Linked DNA regions of Homo sapiens: region 2 is linked to region 1. The links come from fine-mapping of genetic effects on gene expression. Tissue or cell type: lung. Region 1 holds a variant in brackets; the other region holds the start of a gene. All regions are shown on one strand. Distances are from middle to middle.

Region 1 (8,100 bases):
AGCAGGAGGGTGAGGCCTGGGTGCTGGCAGGCTGAGCTGTCCTGGCGTGTCAGCACTGGACCCCAGGGCTCGGAGGAGGGGCACGGCTGAACACCATTGGTCCCTGGGGTCACACTGCAGAGGTTTGGTTCTGTCTCCTGACCCCTCATGGCACAAGCGCCTGGACTTCTCTGTGCCTCAGTTTCTTTCTTTTTTTTTTTTTTTTTTTGAGACGGGAGTCTCGCTCTGTCACCAGACTAGAGTGCAGTGGTGCGATCTCAGCTCAGCTCACTGCAACCTCCGCCTCCCGGGTTCAAGCGATTCTCATGCCTCAGCCTCCCAAGTAGCTGGGATTACAGGTGTCCACCACCATGCCTGGCTAGTTTTTGTATTTTTAGCAGAGACGAGGTTTCACCATGTTGGCCAGGTGCCTCAGTCTTCTTGTCTCCTTGCCTCCTAGGGTTGTGAGTCCCGGCCCAGCCCCTCCACCCCCCTGCCCCCCCGATGCGACCATGGGCTCTGGCAGTGACTAGGTGGCCACCCTCCGCCCCCGTGGGCCAGCGGCGATTCTCTGCGGGACCTGGCAGCACCCCGGGCCAGCTCTGGGGAAGGTAGGAAGGAGCCTCCCAGTCCTGGTGCTGGGGCATGGGGGCCAGCAGGGGTGGGGCGCAGGGCCCTGAGCTGCCTTCCCTCCCCATGGGGGGAGTCACCCTGGCTTCTCTCCCTGCTCTGTGCACGAGTGGCCCCCCTCAGTCCTATCGGGGCCTCCTCTCTGTGGTGCAGCCCTGGCCTCGAGGGCCCCCTGGCCAGCCCGCCTGCCCGGGATGAGCGCTTACCCTCCCAGCAGCCGCCGTCCCGACCTCCACACCTCCCCGTAGAGGAGCGCCGAGCCTCGGCTCCTGCCGGCGGGAGCCCCCGAATGCTGCACCCAGCCACCCAGCAGAGCCCGTTCATGGTTGATCTCCACGAGCAGGTAGGCAGAACCCCATCCCCTGTGCCCCTGGCCCTGTGAGCCAGTCTGAGAGGCAGAGGCAGCAAGGCCTAGATTTCACCTAGCTTGCTTCATTTCACGTTCCAGGGAGGCATTATTGGCCCTGCTTTACAGGTAGGTAAACTGAGGCCCGGGGAAAGGGCCACACTGGGTGACTAGCAGAGCTAGATTCCCACGGGGCTTTCTCTGCCCCGGGGGCCTGGGAGTAGAGGCACAGTCTGGTCTGCACTGAGGTAGGCCGCCGTGGAGAAGGGAAGGGAGCCGGCAGCTGGATGTGGCAGGATGATTTCTCCTGAGAGTAGCCCTCGCGGTCAGCTTCCTTTTCATACTTTCCCGGCGTTCTCTCCACCCACAGGTGCACCAGGGACCTGTCCCTCTGTCCTACACGGTCACCACAGTGACGACCCAAGGCTTCCCCTTGCCTACAGGCCAGCACATCCCTGGCTGCAGTGCCCAGCAGCTCCCAGCATGCTCCGTGATGTTCAGTGGGCAGCATTACCCCCTCTGCTGCCTCCCGCCCCCGGTGAGTGAGTGTTTCTAGCTCCTCCTCCACCAGCTGCAAGCCCCAGGCACAGGCCAGCGGCTCAGCGGGCCCAGGGCAGCCCTGAACTGGGCTGAGCTATCCAGCCATCCAGGCTGTCAGAGCGCCTGCCTGGCCTCCCCAGGAAAGCATACGCGTGTTCACATTTGGTAATAGAGTGTTTCAAGGTTCAGGAACCTTCCAGTACCCCTGTACCTGCCTCACAGCTTGGCAGAGGCCCAGGAGTTGAGGCTGTGGGCCTTAACAGTGGAGTGTCCTGCCTGGGTGGCCTAGGACAGGGATGGGCCTTCCACAGGGTTTCTTATACAGACCCTGGAGCTGCTGGGTGTGTGCCCGGTGGGGGCCTTTTGCTGGGTGGCATGGCGTAGACCTGGCCCAGAGCCCAGGAGAACGTTCTCAGCCCCCTGCCCCCTCTCTTGGCAGCTTATCCAGGCGTGCACCATGCAGCAGCTGCCTGTGCCCTATCAGGCCTACCCCCACCTCATCTCCAGTGACCACTACATCCTGCACCCCCCACCACCGGCCCCACCCCCCCAGCCCACCCACATGGCGCCCCTGGGGCAGTTTGTGTCTCTGCAGACCCAGCACCCTCGGATGGTGAGTCGGCATGGGTCCGATGCTGGAGGGAGATGGCGTGGGGGGAGGCAGGGTGAGGACAGCCTCGTCTCACTGACTTGCTGACCCGGCGCTGGTTCTTCCAGCCCCTCCAGCGGCTCGACAACGACGTGGACCTGCGTGGGGACCAGCCCTCCCTGGGCAGCTTCACCTACTCCACCTCTGCGCCTGGCCCAGCCCTTTCCCCGTCGGTGCCCCTGCACTACCTGCCCCACGATCCGCTGCACCAGGAGCTGTCCTTTGGTGTGGTGAGTGCCACCCCGACCCCCACCTGGGCTCCAGGGCAGCTGGGAGGCAGACCCGCTGGGCCGACCTGCATCTGGGCTCCCAGGCAGCTGGGAGGCAGGCCCACCGGGCTGACTTGCACGTGGGCTCCGGGGCGGCTGGGAGGCAGGCCTGCTGGGCTGACTTGCACCTGGGCTCCGGGGCGGCTGGGAGGCAGGCCCACCGGGCTGACTTGCACGTGGGCTCCGGGGCGGCTGGGAGGCAGGCCCACCGGGCTGACTTGCACCTGGGCTCCGGGGCGGCTGGGAGGCAGGCCCACCGGGCTGACTTGCACCTGGGCTCCGGGGCGGCTGGGAGGCAGGCCTGCTGGGCTGACCTGCACCTGGCCCCTCTTGCAGCCATATTCTCACATGATGCCACGGAGACTGAGCACCCAGAGATACCGCCTGCAGCAGCCACTGCCCCCGCCGCCCCCACCCCCACCCCCACCACCCTACTACCCCAGCTTCCTGCCCTACTTCCTGTAAGTATCCGCACATCCGCCCCAGGTCCCTGATGCCCTGTTCTCCTGGAACCTCCAGTGGTTAGACCTAAACACAGCTCCAGGGGCCCCAGGGCCTCTGAAGCCACCTGGCGTTCCCCCCTTAACCTGACAGGCACGCCAGCTGGGCTCCCTTCCCCGCTGCAACGTTCTGGGCTCTGTTTGCAAGGAGGGAGTCAGGAGAGCGGCTCTGTGTGCCCCACTCCTGACCTTGACCCTGGGCCCCCACACTTGTCTCTCTCTAGCTCGATGCTGCCAATGTCACCAACAGCAATGGGGCCCACCATCAGCCTGGACCTGGACGTGGATGATGTGGAGATGGAGAACTATGAGGTCCCATGGAGCCCCATGCTGGGAGGTGGGGTTTGGGAGACCTGCAGCCCTGGGCGCCGCTGACCCCGTCTCCTGCCCGCATGCAGGCCCTCCTGAACCTGGCCGAGCGGCTGGGAGATGCCAAGCCCCGGGGTCTCACCAAAGCAGACATAGAGCAGCTCCCGTCGTACCGCTTTAACCCGGACAGCCATCAGTCGGAGCAGACGCTGTGAGTACCCTGCCCCACCTCCCACCCCTCTGAACACAGCTGGCTGCCGTGGGACGCCCCTCTCAGGGGAGTCACACTCCACTGAGCCTTCCCATGGCCCTCAGCGTGGAGGTGACGCTCCGCGCCCCTCCACAGGTGTGTGGTCTGCTTCAGTGACTTCGAGGCGCGGCAGCTGCTCCGAGTCCTCCCCTGCAACCATGAGTTCCACACCAAGTGTGTTGACAAGTGGTTGAAGGTAACACTGCCCAGGTCTGCTCCTGGGTATTCCTCATGCAGTGACGGGGGGATGGGCTGGCCTGGGCTGTTTCCCTCCTTGTCCTTGTCATCATCTCGGAAGTTCTGGCTCCAGCGGACCAAGTCCCCCCAGGTGGCTGCACAGATGTGGTGGGTTGGGGCTGGTGAGAGCAACGCCTGACGTGCATGTTCCCACAGGCCAACCGGACGTGTCCCATCTGCCGGGCCGACGCCTCCGAGGTGCCCAGGGAGGCTGAGTGAGGCCACGCAGCCGCCTGCCCGGGAGAACCCTGCCTGAAGCTCTGGAAACTTGTGGGTGGGGCCCAGGGAGGATGGGGAGGGAGTGGCCCAGGCCTGCCCCTTCGCTCCTGCCTGCATTTCCAGAGCTGGTGCCAGGGTCAGCCCAGCGAGGAGTCCCTGCAATAAGCCCCTGCATTTGCCAAGCTCCAAAGACTCCCTCCCTAGTCTGCCTGCCTGCCCGCCCGCCACGGAGCTGCCTGAGTGTCCCTGAT[C/T]GGGTCTCCCTCCTGTGCACCCTCAGGTCCCTCCTTTTCCTGCTGGCACTGAGTGCCAGGGGTCCGCTCCCTCAGTGGGGCCGGTGGAGATCCTTGGCCCCAGGATGGGCAGACAGAGCACCATCCTGGGTCAGAAGGTCTCATGCTCTGAAATGGCGTGCCCTCTGCCCAGGTGGCACTGCCAGGTGCGTAGACAGACGGTGTCACGAGCCATTTCCTGAGCCCCAGGGCTGAATCCCCCCTCCTTGACCCCGAACAGTGAACTCAGGCAGCTGGCTCTGTGTTGGCTGCTGTGAGGGCTGAGTCTGGTTCCCTAGGGGACCCTCATCCCAGGAACAACATTCCAGCCCCACCCTCAGGCTGGAGGGCGTCCCAGCCTAATCCCGAGCTGGGGCACACGTATCCTGAGGGGCTTGGGCCATACGGGGAGAGGGAGCCCTGTGTTCCCGGTGGTTGTCCCTCCCAGGGATGCAGCCAGACCCGTGCCCAATCTCCTCTCCCTCTGTTGTTTTGCATGAACGTGAGGAGCAGCAGTTTTTGTTCATTCATTTGGCCCAAAATCACGTGTAGGATTTGGGGATGTGGATATTTAAGACAATTTCTTTTTTCTTTTGGTTTAATAGGGGCGGGTATAGGGACCAACTGGGACCGAGTGCCCAGGGGGCCGAGCACGGTCATGCTGGCCGGCCTGCATGCATGCGTGTGCCGGGCTGGGCTGGGCGGCCGGCGGTCGTGGGGCAGGGTTGGGGGTCTGTGCTCAGCTGATAACTGCCATGCACTGTACTGCACACGTCCCTAGAGCCTACCGGGACCCGACGCTTTTCAGGGCATTTCTCCCTCCAGCCAGGGCCCAACTCCCACCTGCCTGGGCGAATCTCCTCCAAGGAAGTCCCAGGAGGATGGGGACCAGGAAGGCTGTGGACCCCCATCTCCAGGGGGCCTTCCCAGCCTGATCCCTGTCCTCCAAGTTCTGGAGGAGGCCGCTGTAGGGTCTGGCTGAGCTTCCCACCCACTTTCCCTGGTCCCAATCCTTTCTTGTCCTATACCCAGCTGGGGTTGCTGCCCTGAACGAACTGCGTGTGGGGCCGGCACATCCTAGCAGGCAGCCCCTGGCGCCTGCTGCCTCAGGGATGCTCCAACCACCCTCGTTCTCCTCGCAGTGGCCCTGGCTCCCACCTCCCGCCCCAGCCTGCCGTGGGGCCCGTCAGCCTGGTCCCACCCCCATGGAGAACCCAAAGTCTTACTGTATATAACTCCAGGTGACGTTTCTATATTTATAGCAGTGTTGAAAACCCACGTGTTTTACACAGAACCACCCTCTCCAACCCCTCCCTTCCCGACCCCAACAAAACGTTTTCAAACCCCTTACAGTTCCTGGGGCAGGCGGAAACAGGCTCACAGATTGTGTGTCGGCTGCAGCAGTGATTCCAACAAGCAGCTATTGGGGGGGAAACACAGCATTTAAAAAGATCATCATTAAAAAACAAGATTTATACAACAATTACTTAGGATGTTTGTGATCTGCCGACCTTGCTATAGATGCCATGTTACCAATGATTTCCTGTGGTGGGGGCTTGCCATTGTTTACTCTCTTATTTACCAACTTCTGGCCTAGGCATGACAGTGGGCACCTTCCCCCAGCCCTGGCTGGGCCCAGCGCCTGTGTTCTGTGTTAGAAAGGTTTTATATATATATAAAATTACATATATATGTAGAAATATATGTAATTTTGGGGGCCCTGTTCCTTGCACATTTTACAGTTACCTCATTTTTCCCATGTATGTATTTGAGAAAATGCTAATATATAGAGAAAAAAATGGTTCTTAAAGCTTAAATGTGTGGTTTTTTCCATTCCATGGGATTCACATTGGTTTGTAGCATTTAACATAACTAGTATGTTGTATTATATATATGTGTATACTGATTGAAATTTTTAACAGATTTGTACTTTTTTTAAAATGAAAGTTGCTAGTTCTGCTTGACCAAGTAGTGCAATCATTATTTTTTTTAATATTGTTGCTGATTTCAGAGGGATATTCACTAATAAATGTATGATGTATACCAACGACCGCCCACGCTGCCTTTGGCTGCCCGTGTCTTTTTGGTGGGAGGTGGGATGGGGATGAGGCTTAACACCTGTAATCCCAGCACTTTGGGAGGCCGAGGCTGGTGGATCACTTAAGGTGAGGTGTTCGATACCAGCCTGCCCAACATGGTGAAACCCCTTCTCTACTAAAAACACAGAAAAATTAGGCCGGGCGTAGTGGCTCATGCATGTAATCCCAGCCGGTGGCTCATGCCTGTAATCCCAGCACTTTGGGAGGCTGAGGTGGGCGGATCATGAGGTCAGGAGATTGAGACCGTTCTGGCTAACACGGTGAAACCTTGTCTCTACTAAAAATACAAAAAAAAATTAGCCGGGCGTGGTGGCGGGCACCTGTAGTCCCAGCTACTCGGGAGGTTGAGGCAGGAGAATGGCGTGAACCTGGGAGGCGGAGCTTGCAGTGAGCCAAGATCGTGCCGCTGCACTCCAGCCTGGGTGACAGAGCAAGACTCCGTCTAAAAAAAAAAAAATTAGCCAGGTATGGTGGCACAAGCCTGTAGTCCCAGCTACTCGGGAGGCTGAGGTAGGAGAATTGCTTGAATCCAGGAGGTGGAGGTTGCAGTGAGCCAAGATTGCACCACTGCACTCCAGCCTAGGTGACAGCGGACTGTGTCTCAAAAAATAAAAATGAATCTCAAGGTAGGTTCTTCTGTCCTGACTGGATCAGGGGGCTCAGGCCTGTCATGAGGAAATAAGGTCTCCCTCATTTCACAACTTGTTTTGTTTTTCCAATAGGAACAAGTCTCACTATGCTGCCCAGGCTGGTCTCGAACTCTTGGGCTCAAGCAGTCCTCCCACCTTGGCCTCCCAAAGTGCTGGGATTGCAGGTGTGAGCCACCGCGTCCAGCCTGCAACCTTGCTTTTCTCTGCGCGGCAGCGCTTGGTAGCCCTTGCTCAGTCTCCTCTAATTTAGCATCACCTGAGGCGTGTGCCACCATGGCCTGCTAAGTTTTTGTATTTTTTTGTAGAGACGGGGTCTCATGTTGTTTCCCAGGCTAGTCTTGAACTCCTGAACTTAAGTGATCTGCCTGCCTCAGCCTTCCAAAGTGCTGGGATTACCTGCGTGAGCCACCGCGCCCAGCTTAAAACACAATGATAACATTTCTAATGGCTCAAAGAAAAATGAAATACTTAGGACTAAATCTAACAAAACGTGCAAGACTTGCATGCTGAAAACTACAAAACTGTAATGAAAGAAATCAGACCTACATAAATGGAAACAAACCGTGTACTTGGATTGGAATATTCAACATAGTAAAGGTGGCATTTCTTCGCAGATCAATCTGTAGGTTTAATGCAATTTCTATCAAAATCTCAGCAAGGGTGGTTGTTTGTTTTTTAAGATGCAGACATGCCTAGGCTGGGCACCGTGGCTCGAGCCTGTAATGCCAACACTTTGGTTTGTTGTTGTTGTTCTTGTTTGTTTGTTTGAGATGGACTCTCGCTCTGTCGCCCAGGCTGTAGGGCAATGGCGCGATCTCAGCTCACTGCAACCTCCGCCACCCGGGTTCAAGTGAGTCTCCTGCCTCAGCCCGAGTAGCTGGGACTACAGGCACGCACCACTACGCCCAGCTAATTTTTGTTTGTTTGTTGTTTTTTTGTTTTTTTTTTGAGACGGAGTCTGGCTCTGTCACCAGGCCGGAGTGCAGTGGCGTGATCTCAGCTCACTGCAACCTCCGCCTCCTGGGTTCAAGTGATTCTTGTGCCTCAGCCTCCCAAGTAGCTGGGATTACAGGCACACGCCACCACGCCCAGCTAATTTTTGTATTTTTAGTAGAGGCGGGTTTTCACCATGTTGGCCAGGATGGTCTTGATCT
Region 2 (8,100 bases), 110 kb after region 1:
TCGTGCATGGGTGTGACGGCCTTTGTGCAAGATTGTGGTTTCAGACAATCCTTGTTTTTTGTTGTTGTTGTTGTTGGGTTTTTTTTTTTTTCTTGAGACGGAGTTTTGCTCTTGTTGCCCAGGCTGGAGTACAATGGGGCAATCTCGGCTCACTGCAACCTCTGCCTCCCAGGTTCAAGCAATTCTTCTGCCTTAGCCTCCTGAGTAGCTGGGATTACAGGTGTGTGCCACCACACCCAGCTAATTTTGTATTTTTAGTAGAGACGGGGTTTCATCATGTTAGGTTGGTCTTGAACTCCAGACCTCAGGTGATCCGCCCATCTCAGCATCCCAAAGTGTTGGGATTACAGGCATGAGCCACCGTGCCCAGCCTCAGACAGTCCTTGTAATATTTTCTATCATAGGCATGTGTGCATGGGAGCCCCTCATTTATGGCCTCCTGAGTCCATTTTGCTAGGGTTTGGCATAAGTGACTCCAGTTTGATTTGGACAACTTGTGCAGAAGGATGCCCACTTTTGGTATTTCTATTCAACATAGTACTGGAAGTCCTAGCCAGAGAAATTAGGCAAGAAAAAGAAATAAAAGCAACCCAGATTGGAAAGTAAGAAGTATCTCTGTTTGCAGATGCTATTTATTTATTTAGAGACAGGGTCTCACTCTCATTGCCCAGGCTGGAGCGCAGTGGTGTGATTGTTATAGGACAGGGGTCCCAATCCAGACCCCAAGAGAGGGTTCTTGGATCTCACGCAAGAAAGAATTCAGGGTGAGTCCTTGGTGCAAAGCGAAAACAAGTTTATTAAGAAAGTAAAGGAGGGGCCGGGCACGGTGGCTCACGCCTGTAATCCCAGCACTTTGGCAGGCCGAGGTGGACAGATCATGAAGTCAAGAGATCGAGACCATCCTGGCTAACAGGGTGAAACCCCGTCTCTACTAAAAATACAAAAAAAAAAAAAATTAGCTGAGCATGGTGGCAGGCTCCTGTAGTCCCAGCTACTTGGGAGGCTGAGGCAGGAGAATGGCGTGAACCCGGGAGGTGGAGCTTGCAGTGAGCCGAGATCGCACCACTGCACTCCAGCCTGGGCAACAGAGCGAGACTCCACCTCAAAAAAAGAAAAAGAAAGTAAAGGAATAGAAGAATGGCTACTCCATAGACAGAGCAGCCCCAAGGACTGCTGGTTGCATATTTTCATGGCCATTTCTTGATGAAATGCTAAACAAGGGGTGGATTATTCGTGCCTTCCCTTTTTAGACCGTATAGGGTAACTTCCTGATGTTGCCATGGCATTTGTAAACTGTCCTGGCACTGGTGGGAGTGAGGATGACCAGAGGTCACTCTTGTCACCATTTTGGTTTTGGTGGGTTTTGGCTGGCTCCTTTACTGCAACCTGGTTTTTGTTGTTGTTGTTTGTTGGTTTGTTTGTTTTTTGAGACTGAGTCTTGCACTGTCACCCAGGCTGGAGTGCAGTGGTGAGATCTCGGCTCACTGTAACCTCCGCCTCCCGGGTTCAAGCAATTCTCCTGCCTCAGCCTCCCAAGTAGCTGGGATTACAGGCACCTGCCACCATGCCCAGCTAATTTTTTGTATTTTTAGTAGAGACGGGGTTTCACTATATTGACCAGGCTGGTCGCAAACTCCTGACCTCACAATCCGCCCACCTTGGCCTCCCAAAGTGCTGGGATTACAGGCGTGGGCCACCTTGCCCAACACTGCAAACTGTGTTATCAGCAAGGTCTTTATGACTTGTATTTTGTGCTGACCTCCTATCTCATCCTGTGATTTAGAATGCCCTAACCGTCTGGGAATGCAGCCCAGTAGGTTTCAGCCTCATTTTACCCAGATCCTGTTTACGACGGACTTGCTCTGATTCACACACCTCTGACACAATCATAGCTCACTGCAACCTTGACTTCCCGGGCTCAGGTGATTCCCTCACCTCGGCCTCCTGAGTAACTGGGACTACGGGCACCATACCACCATGTCTGGCTAATTTTTTGTAGTTTTAGTAGTGATGGGGTTTTGCCACGTTGTCCAGACTGGTCTCAAACTCCTGGGCTCAATCTATCCACCCACTTCCACCTCCCAAAGTGCTGGGATTACAGGTATGAGCCATGGCACCTGGCTAATAAGCTCTTATCTGCAGAAAACCCTAAATATTCCACACACAAAAAATGTTAGAGCTAATAAATGAATTCAGCAAAGCAGCAGGATACAAAGCCAATGCACAAAAATCAGTTAAATTTCTATGCATTAACAATACGCAATCAAAAAAGAAGATAAAACTTCCACTTACAATAACATCAAAAAGGCCAGGTGTGTTGGCTCATGCCTGTAATCCCAGCTCTTTGGAAGTCTGAGGATGAGAGGATCACTTGAGCCCAGGAGTTGAAGCTGTAGTGAACTATAATCGTACCACTACACTCTAGCCTGGGCAAGAGTAAGATCCTGTCTCAAAACAAAAAACAAACAAACAACAACAACAAAACCATGCAAATGGACAGCAATAAATAAATACATTAATTTAATTAAATAAAACAATAAAAACCCCCCCAAAAACAGTAACATCAAAAGGTGCTCAAGTTGTTACCAATTAAACTGAAAGTTCCAGCTGGGCTTGGTAGCTCACACATGTAATCCCAGTGTTTTGGGAGACCAAGGCAGGAGGATCCCCTGAGGCCAGCAGTTCAAGACCAGCCCAGTTAATATAGCGAGGCCCTGTCTCTAAATAAAAAAATTAAAAAGAAAAAAAAAAAAACACCTGGAAGGTCCCTTCACCCCAACTCCACTTCCACCCCCAACTTGGCGGCACATCTTTCCTTTCGCTCTTCCAGTCCATATTTCATAGTTGCCTTTCAAGTCCCACATTAGAAATAGCAGACAGCCCAAATCCCATGGTGTTTCTTTGCATCGTCTCCCTATACCCCGTGTTTAAATGTCACAGCGCCTCACACACAGTGCTTTGACAGGCCATTTGCCATCTGTTGGTCTCACCGGATTGTAATCTCCGCATGGCCATGGCTGGATTTTATAAAACGTTGCTGTCCTGGTGCTTGGCAAAGCGCAGGCAGGGAGGAGGCATTCAGAGCCTGTTCACAGAGGGCAGCGGGCAGCGTGGAGAGTGGTAGGCTGCCTGGGTAAACCAGGTCTGCCTTTCTCAGGCTGGTTCATACCTAAAGGACATTTAAGGGGCCTAGCTGGCCATCCAAACTCTGGTCGTATGAACTGAAGCCTCCTCAAGGGAGATACACAAAAAAATACACAAAACAACACGGCCTAGTGGGAAAGGACCTGGACTTGCATGAAAAGGTGCGGGGCAGCCTTTCCCAGCCTCAATTTTCCTCTTCTTACAGAGGCGGAGGCTCATAGAATGAGGTGCATGACATCCCAACCTAGGAGAAGAAACTTCTGCAGAATGAATCAGGAGCCAGGTCTGCGCTCCCGAGGCCAGAGGTGGCCTCCTGTCGCAGCTCTGTGCACGGTACGGCCACTCTGTGCCCTGCGTTTCGCCTCCAGGCCGGGCGGGAGCAGTGCCTAGCCCAGGTGTCCTCGACGCGAGCAGCTGGGCGCCGCTGCGGAGGGAGGGAAGCGCCGCGCCGGTCCCGGGCCCAGCGCTGCGCCCAGTCCTGAGGCGCCCTCCTGCGGCCGCTGCTCGGCGACCTCCCGGCCCTGCGGCCCCGCCCCCGCGGTGACGTCACCGCATTCCGGCTCCGCTCCTCCCGCCGCGGCGCCCGCACCGCAGTGACAGCCAGCCGGGCCCGGTGGCGGAGAGGAAGTGCGGTCCGCGCCAAGCCCGTCCCCGCCGACGCCGGCTCCCCCGCGGCTCGGGTGACAGCGTCGCGGCCGCCGGACGCAGCGCGGGGCAGGCGCGGGCAGAGCCGAGCGCAGCGGAGGCTCCGGCGGAGGCGCGGGGAAAATGGCTGATGACTTTGGCTTCTTCTCGTCGTCGGAGAGCGGTGCCCCGGAGGCGGCGGAGGAGGACCCGGCGGCCGCCTTCCTGGCCCAGCAGGAGAGCGAGATTGCAGGCATAGAGAACGACGAGGGCTTCGGGGCACCTGCCGGCAGCCATGCGGCCCCCGCGCAGCCGGGCCCCACGAGTGGGGGTGAGTCAGCGCGGGGCCTGGAGAGGGGCTCAGGGCGCGCACCCGGGGGACCCCGGCCGGGGCCCAGGGGCACAGGGAAGAGAGCCTGCTCTAGGCCACCCGGGGCAGGAGCTGGGAGACGTGGGGAAGAATCTTCTTGGAGATCTCCATGTAGGACTTCCGAGCTGGGGATGAGGCCTCGCCTGGGGCTGTGGATCTGGTGACTCCCGGGACAGGAATTCGGTCATGACATTTCATCCCCAGGCCAGCTTCCCCACTGCCCGGCTCTGGAATCCAACCCCACCTCAGTTTTGAGAGTCCCTCCTGAGCCTCCTAATAGCCTGGGTGTCCCAGGCTCCCAGCTAAGTGTGCAGGTGTGGGCAGAACACAGCCCTCCTGGCCCCTCAGGCTTAGCTCTCTCCTGCAGCTGGGAAAAAAGAGGATCCTGGGTGCTCCAGGAACTCACTAACCTTCCCCGGTGACCGCCTGGCATTCGGCAGTCGCTGGGCTAAGCGCCTTGGTTACATTTAATCACTTCATACACGTGATTGAACCCATTTCAGAGATGGTAAAACTGAGGCTCAAGGGAGTATGCTATTGAAATAACTAGTAAGTGGCAGATCAAGAATTTAAACCTGTTTCTTTTTCTTTTACATATATATTTTTTCTTTTCCTTTTTTTGAGATGGGGTCTCGCTATGTTGCCCAGACTGGTCTTGAGCTCCTGGGCTCAAGCAATCCTCCCACCTCTGCCTCCTAAAGTGTTGGGATTACAGGTGTGAGTCACCACACCTGGCCGTGAATTTAAACCTGTTCCTGTCGGACTTGAAGCCCTCTCCACCTGACCACACTGCCTACCAAGTGTCTGGCTCTGAGTTAGACACCGGAGTGTGGGCCACAAAGAGGCATCAGTCAGATGCGGTAGGGCCCTTCAGGGTTTTGTAGTTGTCGACTTAATGGTTTTCCAAAGGTGGTCCGGGGCTATTATGATTTACTGTGATTGGCTTCAGACCTCAGTGTTCAGGGCCTAGTCCCTGTGAAATCATCTTTATCAATGATGTTTCTGCCCTGGTTCTGGCTAGCAAGAATGATTTTGTAAAATATTTAGTAAAAAAGTAGATATCACCTTCATGGGTACATCCAAAACAGGTTTTACTTCCTGTTGATGTCATTTTGGAAAGGTTTATGGGCCTGTTGTAGTAAGTGCTAACATATATACATATAGACATATTTTGGTTAATGATGTTTACAAGGCTCTTCACAGTCATGTTTGTATCCATTCAACGTTTACTGAGCACCTACTGTGTGTCAGGACGCTGGGGATACAGAAATGAATAAGACAGTTCCTGTGGCTGAGGAGTTTGAAGCAACTCTGTATCTCCTTGATATGAGAAATGTAACCAGGCTTTTGTAACATGCAAGAAACCGGTGGCCCAGAGAATCTGAGTATCTTGCCCAGAGTCACACAGCCAGGAATGACCAATCTAGGACTTGATCCCACGCCTCCCAACTCTGGGCTCCATGCTCTTTCAAATGCTGTGGAGCCTGGGCAACATGGTGAAACCCCATCTCTACAAAACATACAAAAATTAGCCAGGCATGGTGGCATGTAGCTGTAGTTGTAGTTCCAGCTGCTCGGGAAGGCTGAGGCAGGAGCATAGCTTGAGCCCGGGAGGTGTAGGTAGGTCGCCGTGTGCTGTGATCACGTCTCTGTACTCCAGCCTGGGCAGCAGAGTGAGACCCTGTCTCAAAAAAAAAAAAAAAAAGATTCTATAGCAGTCACCTCCCTGGCAGGAGATAGGATGTGGGGTGAGAAGCATGGGGTCTTTTGCCACCTATCTGAGACAGCAATGGAGGGCTTCTGAAGTGGAAGCTTCCAGCACCTCAATACAGAATCTGCCGTGTCCCAGGGAATTCCTAAGAAATGCCTGCCCCAGTTAATGCACCAGTATTCACTGGACCACACCTCTGTGAGACCACCCTTTTCCTCAGTCTGGCTCACTGGGGCCTGTTGGGGTCGGGGTGCAGGGAAGAGGAGGGAGGCCTTGTGGGGAGGTCCTGCTGAGGGGAGCCATTGTGAGAACCTCAGGAGAGAAAAGATGGGATTCAGGCTGAGGGCAGCCAGATGCCTGAGGGAGCTGAGCAGGTTGTGGCCTCTCCCAGGATGGTGGGGCTCCAGGGACTTACAGTCTGGATGGCAAGTTCTGTCCTTGGCAGGGGTGGGGCACAAATTGGCCTCAGACCAGAGGTGACAGGGAGAGAAACAATGACACGCTCGCTTCTTCCAGGGAGGTGCCGGGGATACAGCCTTCTGAGGGTCTCCCAGGCGCATACCTGCTGACTCTGCAAAGGCTCAGCTGCCCTCCTTAGTTGGATCGGGGAGCAGGGAGGTGTTGAGGGATGGCGGCTCAGTGGATGGCCAGATGGGCTAGAATTGATCTGACCTTCTCAGCCTATGCAGTGCTGAACAGGTAATCTTCCCCTGACCAGGGATGTGTGCCAGGAGCCTGGATGGGGCAGAGAAAAAGCGCCCTGGCCTGCTGAGAGCTGGGCAAAAGCTGGCTTAGCAGCGGCCGCCAGTCAGTACCTCTGAGGCACCTTCTCTTAGATGTTGGGGTCCTCAGATTAGCAATCTCTGTGCTGACACTGGGCTCAGTTGCCCCTGGGGAAAGAGGTATCTGGTGTAGGCCTGTGCTGGAGCCACAGGGAGCCCCTCCTCTCTGGCTGGATCTGTGGCCCTGGGTGATCTGGATGATGGACACTTTGTTTCCATTCATCAGCCTTGGGTAGGTTTCCATTTTCACACCCAGTTTTCTGAGCACCAGGCCTGGCTCTGACTTGCCTGTCAGTTCTGGGCAAGCCCATTTCCCCCGCTGGGCCTCGTAAGCTCACAGGAATGTTCTGGACCCTCTCTGCCCTTGTTCCAAAATGGGTCAGGCAGCTGAGGGAAGCAAACCCTCAGGGGTTTATCCCTGGGACGTGTCTCTGTCTCAGTCCTGTTCTGCTGGCCTGTGAGTGTGGACTCCCGGTGGTAGATGGGCAGTGGGTGGGTGGAGAGCACTGTGGGAACAGGTACTTGGAATGCTGTGTAGGTGTGTGTGGACTCTTAAGGAGGCCGAAACTGCATGTCCAGAGGAACACTCTCGAGGCTGAGGCAGAGAGACTTTCTGAAGGTCAGGGTAGACCCCAGGCAGCTGTGTGTAGATGTGGGGTCTGAGACTGGGGTTGGTCAGGGCGGAGTAGGGTGGTGCAAATTCTCGAGAAGGCCAAATGTACAGACCGGCATCACAGGGAATAGACCCTGGTAACGTGAGGCCCTGCTAGAGGAGACACCCCAGCAGAAGAAGCCCCTTTGCAGAAGATGCTGCCACTGAAATGCTATTGGTCCCACTGTGATTTAGGGGCCAGGACACCCATGCAGGAGAAGCCTTATCTGAAGGAATGGGAGTGACAGCTGACAGAGTTGGTTGGAATCAATCACTGGTTGACTCTGAAAGCAAAGTCAATTATGATTTATGTCACCCGGGGATTATTTCCATGGGATTAAGTACCCTTCCCTTGAGTCCCCAGGCCAAACACACTGTCGCTGCTCACAGCCCTGTCTGGCTGGTGAAGGGCTATTTGTCCATCTGCCTATTAACCTCATGTGGCCTCCATGGCTTTTTGCTAGGAGGCACAGCAGTTTCTGAGAGCCTTGCAGATAACAGCAGGCCTCAAAACAACAATTCAACTTCCATTTAGCCAATAGTTACTGCTCACCCATTCCGTGCTGGAGCCCTGAGGAGCTGAATAGGACACGGAGCCTGGTAAGGGGGTACACACGGACCCTGGGGGTCATGAGTAATTGCACAAGAGGGTGCAGGATACTGTATGATATCCTGGGATACCCCGGAAGTGAGACCTTCCGTAAGTGCCTAGGGAAGTAAAGGAAGCAGAGGAGGGCTTCCCAGAGGAGGTGACTTATGAGCTGGACCTTGGAGAATAAATGGAGCCAAAAAAGCATTCTTTTTTTTTTTTTTTTTT

The links. PIP is the estimated chance that this variant, and not a neighbour inherited with it, causes the effect.
Region 2: it holds the start of CLTB, and the variant in region 1 is fine-mapped to the expression of CLTB in lung (GTEx, PIP 0.97).

What each region holds. Positions count from the first base shown.
Region 1 is chr5:176,524,856-176,532,955 of GRCh38, reverse strand. It overlaps RNF44 (ring finger protein 44), which reads left to right. Exons shown (of 11, transcript NM_014901.5): 2 at 440-590; 3 at 763-952; 4 at 1,326-1,493; 5 at 1,935-2,108; 6 at 2,213-2,374; 7 at 2,750-2,874; 8 at 3,138-3,225; 9 at 3,312-3,433; 10 at 3,569-3,668; 11 at 3,866-6,244. The coding sequence starts at 484. The coding sequence ends at 3,928. Among named protein-coding and RNA genes, the nearest start is that of RNF44, 8.5 kb to the left of the region's middle. The variant C/T (reference allele first, on the strand shown) is at 4,180.
Region 2 is chr5:176,412,176-176,420,275 of GRCh38, reverse strand. CLTB (clathrin light chain B) reads left to right here and starts at 3,737. Exons shown (of 6, transcript NM_007097.5): 1 at 3,737-4,099. The coding sequence starts at 3,913. It also overlaps a transcript of ARL10 not described here. RefSeq lists silencers at 3,445-3,904, 3,945-4,044, 4,155-4,234.